Linked DNA regions of Homo sapiens: region 1 is linked to region 2. The links come from fine-mapping of genetic effects on gene expression. A gene starts in region 2. The other region holds a variant in brackets. All regions are shown on one strand. Distances are between the middles of the regions. Region 1 has its middle 22 kb from the start of ATP5MC3. Region 2 holds the start of ATF2 (activating transcription factor 2).

Region 1 (2,921 bases), 35 kb before region 2:
GTTTCCACAAGTAATGGCTGTTTATTGCAAGACTTAAGATGGAAGCCAGGATCTCATGGTGATCAATGAGCAGGGACCAGAAATGGAACAGAAACTGGGACTGTACCAAGAACCCTCAGGAGCAAGAACTGTGAGCCTTCCCTCAAGAGCTCCACCAGAAACACTGCTCAGCCTCCTCTTGTCCCTGCTTCTCTTCACATATCTTCTAGCTAAACCGTATGTAACTAACCTGCACAATGTGCACATGTACCCTAAAACTTAAAGTATAATAAAAAGAAAAAGAAAAAAAAAAGACTGAATTCCTCTTCATCTTTTCTTTTTCTAGTAGCTTAAGCTTAGTTATTGTCTCACCTTCTGCAAGGCTTAGTTTCCTCATAATCTGGCTGTGCTCTTGGCCTCTATTCTACATTATACCCCCACTATACATTATTTCATATCAGTTTCTACTATGAGTCCCCTCATATTCTGTATCCCGAATCAGATTCTCATAGGTAAGCATATAATTGGTCCAACTTGTTCCTCTTTGAACAGTTTTTTAAGCTAAATCACCCCATGAGCTGCTCTCCCATCATACTTTGGCTCCCTCTGGTCTAAGCAGCCATATTAAAGGTGGATTTATATGGTTTAAAATATGGCCACCTTCAACTGCCTCTTTAGCAGCAGTGGTGGATATGAAAGACTGTGATAGCCCCATCCAGTACAATCTTGTTTGCTGTATCTTCTCTCCTTATGCTCTGGAATAATAACCCCTCTCTAGGCAAAGCCACAGCAACTACATCTGGGTTCAGTGGCATCTTAGACATTTGTATATATCAGGAGGATCTCTACTATCAAATAGAGCTAAAGACCAAATGGCTGGCCTGGAGATTACATCAGCAGCAGCACTGGAGATCGCCAACACATGTCCCTACCAAAGAGCATGTTTCAGGTGAGACCACAATGCAAAACTATTTTAAAACACTTAGCTTGATTTTACAGCACATTTTTTACCCCTATTGGTTAATCATTATGTTCCTAATTTTGGCATAGCGTAAATCCAAAAAAAATCCTCTGGACAAACGTATCATTTTAAGTCAGCAAATTATTTTTAGTTCTTGGTCATTAAATCCTAACATATATCTAGCACGTTTGGCCTGTAGCAATTGTATTAATTATTGATGTTTTAAACTGCAGAAAATAGTTTATCATGTGGGCAACAAACTAAGTAAAATATCCCCTAAACTTGGAGATATAGGGCACTATTTCTTGAGATATCAGATCGGGCTGTCCGAGTCCTGTAGAGCAGCTGGCTCAATCCACCTCTGCAGGGCTCGAAGCTTCTAGGCAGAACAGGCAGAAAAGCTGCATTGTGGGTGCCCCCAAGTGGGTACAATTTGATGTGCACGCTGAGGATTTTCTCGCCAGCTCCTCTAGCATTCGGTCATGTCTGTGAAGTGATTTTAAAGATGGAGAAAAGCTAAAACGC[G/A]TGTATGTTTTACAATATACATCTCTCATAATATCAACTGAAGCAATATTTAATGTTTCAGTCTACCACAGATCATTTATTTTCTAGCAAATGTCTTTCAGAAATGTTTTCAAGTTATGCTGCCATTAAAATATGGAGTAGAAAAAGAATGGAGTTTAGTGTCAGACAAAACTTGACTTTGAACACTGGCTCAGCACCTTACTAGCTGTGTGGCCTTGGGAAATTCATTTTACTTTCCTAATCTATAGTTGTCTCATTTCTAAAATAAATTCAGGAGTATTGGAAAGGAAATTTACCTCGTAGGGTTATTTACTGGATAAGGCAATAACGTAATATGATCAGTGTGCAGCACATTGTAAGTGCTCAATAAATATAATTTATTATTGTTTGTAAAAAATATTTATTGAGATATACTGATATATTAAAATTCTAGGAGGTCCTCAATACCTTTTCAATAAATCCCTTTCCTACTTAAATCAGCCACAGGCAATTTCTATTATTTACAACTAATAACTGGGAAATATATATGATCATAGCCAGGAAAAAGTATGCAGTTGACCTGTATTCTTCAAAAATGTCAATGTGGCTGGGCCCACATTAGAGGGGAAAAATTCTATAAAGAACCTTACTGGAACAATTGATGAAATTGGACTATGAACTGCAGACTAGGTAAAAGTTTTATATCAATGTTAAATTTCCTGAATTTGATAACTATACTGTGGCTATGTAAGAGAACCTTCTTGTTTTGAGAAAATATGCACAGAAATATTAAGGGGCATAATGCAGGCAACCTACTTTCCAATGGCTTAGAAAAGTAATTAAAATATCTATAAAATGTCTTTGTGCAAATGTGTATAGATGATAGACACATAGATGTTTATGTATACAGTTAATACCATACGTGTGTGTGTGCATGCATGCACACAGTCAGAGAGAGTATTAAAAATTATGGAAAATGGCAAAATTTATTGAATCTGCATAAAAAATAAATAGGAATTCTCAGCATACTTGCAACTTTTCATGGTTTAAAATTTTAAGTTTAAAAACCTACGTTTAAAATGTACATAAAGAAATGTAAAAGGTAGTGAAGTAGCCCCTGAAAAAAATTAGCTAACTATCCAGAACTTTGAGAAAACACACAAAATTTTTGCAAATTCTTTAGCAAATAATATCTGTTAAATGTTAAATGAATGTCTGCTCTCTAAATAACATTGAAATATATCAACTAATTCTTTTTGAAAATTGAGAATTAAAACATAAATGGTTTTCATGAGCAAGAAAAATTATGAACTTCAAGAGCTCAAAGGAACCATAGAGATTACCTAGTCCAGGTTTCTTTCAAAGACAGAAAATCATCCAAATTCCCTTAGGGACACGTCATCCACTCTTACTCTATGAGATAATCACCCTACACTAATTACTTGATGGTTTAAAATTATATATGGCTCATTATTCT
Region 2 (2,921 bases):
AACTGAAAGACTTTCTTTAAAATAATGTGTTTCTCGAATGCATCATGTAGATAACTAACTGCTTGACAACAGACTGGAGAAGTAGCAATGAGAAATTTAAAACCAAAGCTACTGCCCAATTGAATCAACACTGGAAAAAATTTCAAATGGAAAAACAATTTTTTTAAAAAAATCTATTCTAATTGACCCAAACTTCTTTTGAAATGTCGTAACATTTGCAGTTCTTTTTCTCACATTAGTTGTTTTGGGAGATGGAGAGAGAAGCATCTATTTAATCAATGCGTTCTAGACCTAACAATTGTGATGTCAATCAAACATTTTGTCCACCATTTCCATCATGAGTAATCTGAACTGTGAGGTTTTGCTGACATAATTAGTGTTACACTACAATGGCACTACTACATTACTGTTACTATATGGGGACGGTACTTTCATTTTAAGTAGGAAAGTGTTAATAATTTGGCTTAATGTTTCTTAACTAAAATTAGTTTTAAAAGAGGACTGAGTTGGCTTATACACATGTATGCGGTCCAGAGACCTACCTGTTAAAATGTCAATGCCATTACAATTTCACTTTTATGCCAGATATCATTCTTGAACTTCAGGCTCATTAACTCTCATACTATCCCCCAAAACCTTTCAACAATTTTGAGAGTGTATTTTATGTTAATATATAAACTAGTTCATAATTTTGTTCCAGACTAGAAATCAGTATTTAATAAATGGAAAAAATAAGACACTGAAAATCTTTTATTGAATAATGTAAATTCTCACAGAGGCCTCTGATCATACTTTTCAACTTGTGCCTATTTATTGAATAACCAACATCCTTACAGTTAATATTAAAATCTTTAAGTTGTGTGGGGTTTTTTGGAGGGGAGGGATGGGCAATTACCAGCAAACTCCGCCTCCCCCAAACCTCACCTAACCCGAAGCTCCCCGCCTCAGGCTCCCGGGGAGCCAAGGGGTGGGCTGAGGAACGCAGCCTACTTTTACCCACCTCCCTACCTAGTGCTGGGAAGTGACGGAAACGGAGACACCCGGCTCCTGGGGCTGGGCTCGGAGGACCCATCCTGCTTTCCCTCTAGCAGCCTTTCCGGAGCTCACCACCTTTCCTCCCCTCACACCGCCAAAGCCCTGCCTAGCCCTTCACCGCCGCCTGCACCCGCGCCCTCCTCCAGCCGACAGCCAATCACAGTCTTCCACAGCTCCGGGTTTACAGAAGTAACGCTCCTTGGGCCCTCTGGTCCCGCCCCCTCCAGAACTGCTTCCCGCCCTTCGGGCTCCTTGTCCAATCATGAGCGCCCGAGTGCTCTTTGATGCCCGTCCCCTCTACCCGCCCTGCCGAAGACCCGCCTTCTTCTCCTTAAGCCTGACGGAATCACCTGACTCGGAGGCGCTCCCTCAGAAGGAAGGCAAGAAGGGGCGTGTGGGTGAAGGGGAGGGGCGCCAGAAGGAAGGTGGGGATGCCGGGAGCGGGGCGAGCGGGCGGGGGTTGTCAGTCCGATCTCGCGAGAGAGGACGGAAGCCTGTGGGAGCCCGTGGCCTTTAAAGTGCCGTTCAGCCTTTTCCTCCAGGGGTGCTTTGTAAACACGGCTGTGCTCAGGGCTCGCGGGTGACCGAAAGGATCATGAACTAGTGACCTGGAAAGGTGAGTAACGATGGGCAGAGGTCAGCAGGGCTGGAGACTGTAGGGATACGGAGAAAGAAGGCGCTAACATGGCGACGTCGCTCAGCACAGTCCCCACCCCCCGTTTCCCATCACCTCGGGTGCTCCTGACGTGCTCCTTAGCCCTTGGGGCGATTGTGGCTGTGCTGCCACCTCGGCGGCCCGCGCGGTGTGGGCTTTGGGAACCTGACTGGCTGGGCCGGACCGTTAGGTAACCAGCGTTCGTTGTTCCGGCCCCTCCCTCTCGCGCGCTTTCCTAAGGCAGAGGAAAAAGGAATAACGGCTCCCTCTTAGACCCCTCCCTCCGAATTATCTTCACCCTACTTGGGTCAGTTCAGAGGTCCTCGGGGCGCGCGTCGAGTCAGCCGTGTGCGCAGGGAGACCTCTCCCACCCACAGTCCTTGGGTTGGGCGGGGAGAGGGCCCACTCTGGTCTCCCCACCCAGTATTCAAGCGATTGAGGACCGTGTATTGGTGATGGTGGCGGGGAGGAGGATCGGGAGGCGCGGCTGAAAATAGAATCAGGGTCCCTGGCTGCGGTGCAGCTTGAAGGAAAGAATGGTGTGGAGAACCTAGGAGCTGGAAGTCTCGGCCTTTTCCGTCCTTTCCGCCACCCTCACAATCCCGCTACCCCCAGCTTTTTCCCGGTGGGGCGGGGCTTAGGTGTGGGTGCAGACTGATTCTGGTATTTTCCCTTATTTTTTTTTTTTTAAATCTCTGGGTGGACAGCAGAGCGTATGTAAAGAAATAATTTGCTTTTCATCAATGCCCTAGGGACCAGGGCCGAAAGGGAGTGTGTGTACGTGTTTTCTATGTTCGCTCGTTTAACCGAACCTAGGAGGAAAAAGAGAGGAGGAGCTGGGAACTATTTTTGTGCCCCTAGGTAGTATAAAATTGGCTTTCTTTAATGGAGAGTCTTAAAACTGGTGAGGCCAAGAGCAAAACTACTGTGAATATCATGGAGTAAAAGAGATTACTCCTGATGGACCTTAGGCATCAGAAATTTTAGTGAAAGAAATGTTTCTCTTAAAATTCAACACCTATTTTAAATAGTGATGTAAAGCATTTCTTTACATGTACCTTCAGGTTTTCTAATGCTTTCCTGGCTATTATTTAACTGGTACTAAGGGATTGACTAATCCCTAAATTATAATGTGAAAGTTTAAATTTCTTAGAGGTTTTAAATTATGGAGACGGTCACAATGCATGCATTTAAGATATACATTTAAAATCAGAACAAAAACTGACTTTCT

What was found. PIP is the estimated chance that this variant, and not a neighbour inherited with it, causes the effect. A credible set is the group of variants that fine-mapping cannot tell apart.
Region 1: its variant is the best candidate, but not a certain one, in a credible set for the expression of ATF2 in whole blood (INTERVAL, PIP 0.83).

What each region holds. Positions count from the first base shown.
Region 1 is chr2:175,202,259-175,205,179 of GRCh38, reverse strand. No RefSeq gene overlaps it. Among named protein-coding and RNA genes, the nearest start is that of ATP5MC3, 22 kb to the right of the region's middle. RefSeq lists a silencer at 1,273-1,412. The variant G/A (reference allele first, on the strand shown) is at 1,466.
Region 2 is chr2:175,166,780-175,169,700 of GRCh38, reverse strand. It overlaps ATF2 (activating transcription factor 2), which reads left to right and starts at 1,498. Exons shown (of 14, transcript NM_001880.4): 1 at 1,498-1,651. It overlaps MIR933 (microRNA 933), which reads left to right and starts at 1,992; the gene lies at 1,992-2,068. RefSeq lists a silencer at 1,480-1,549.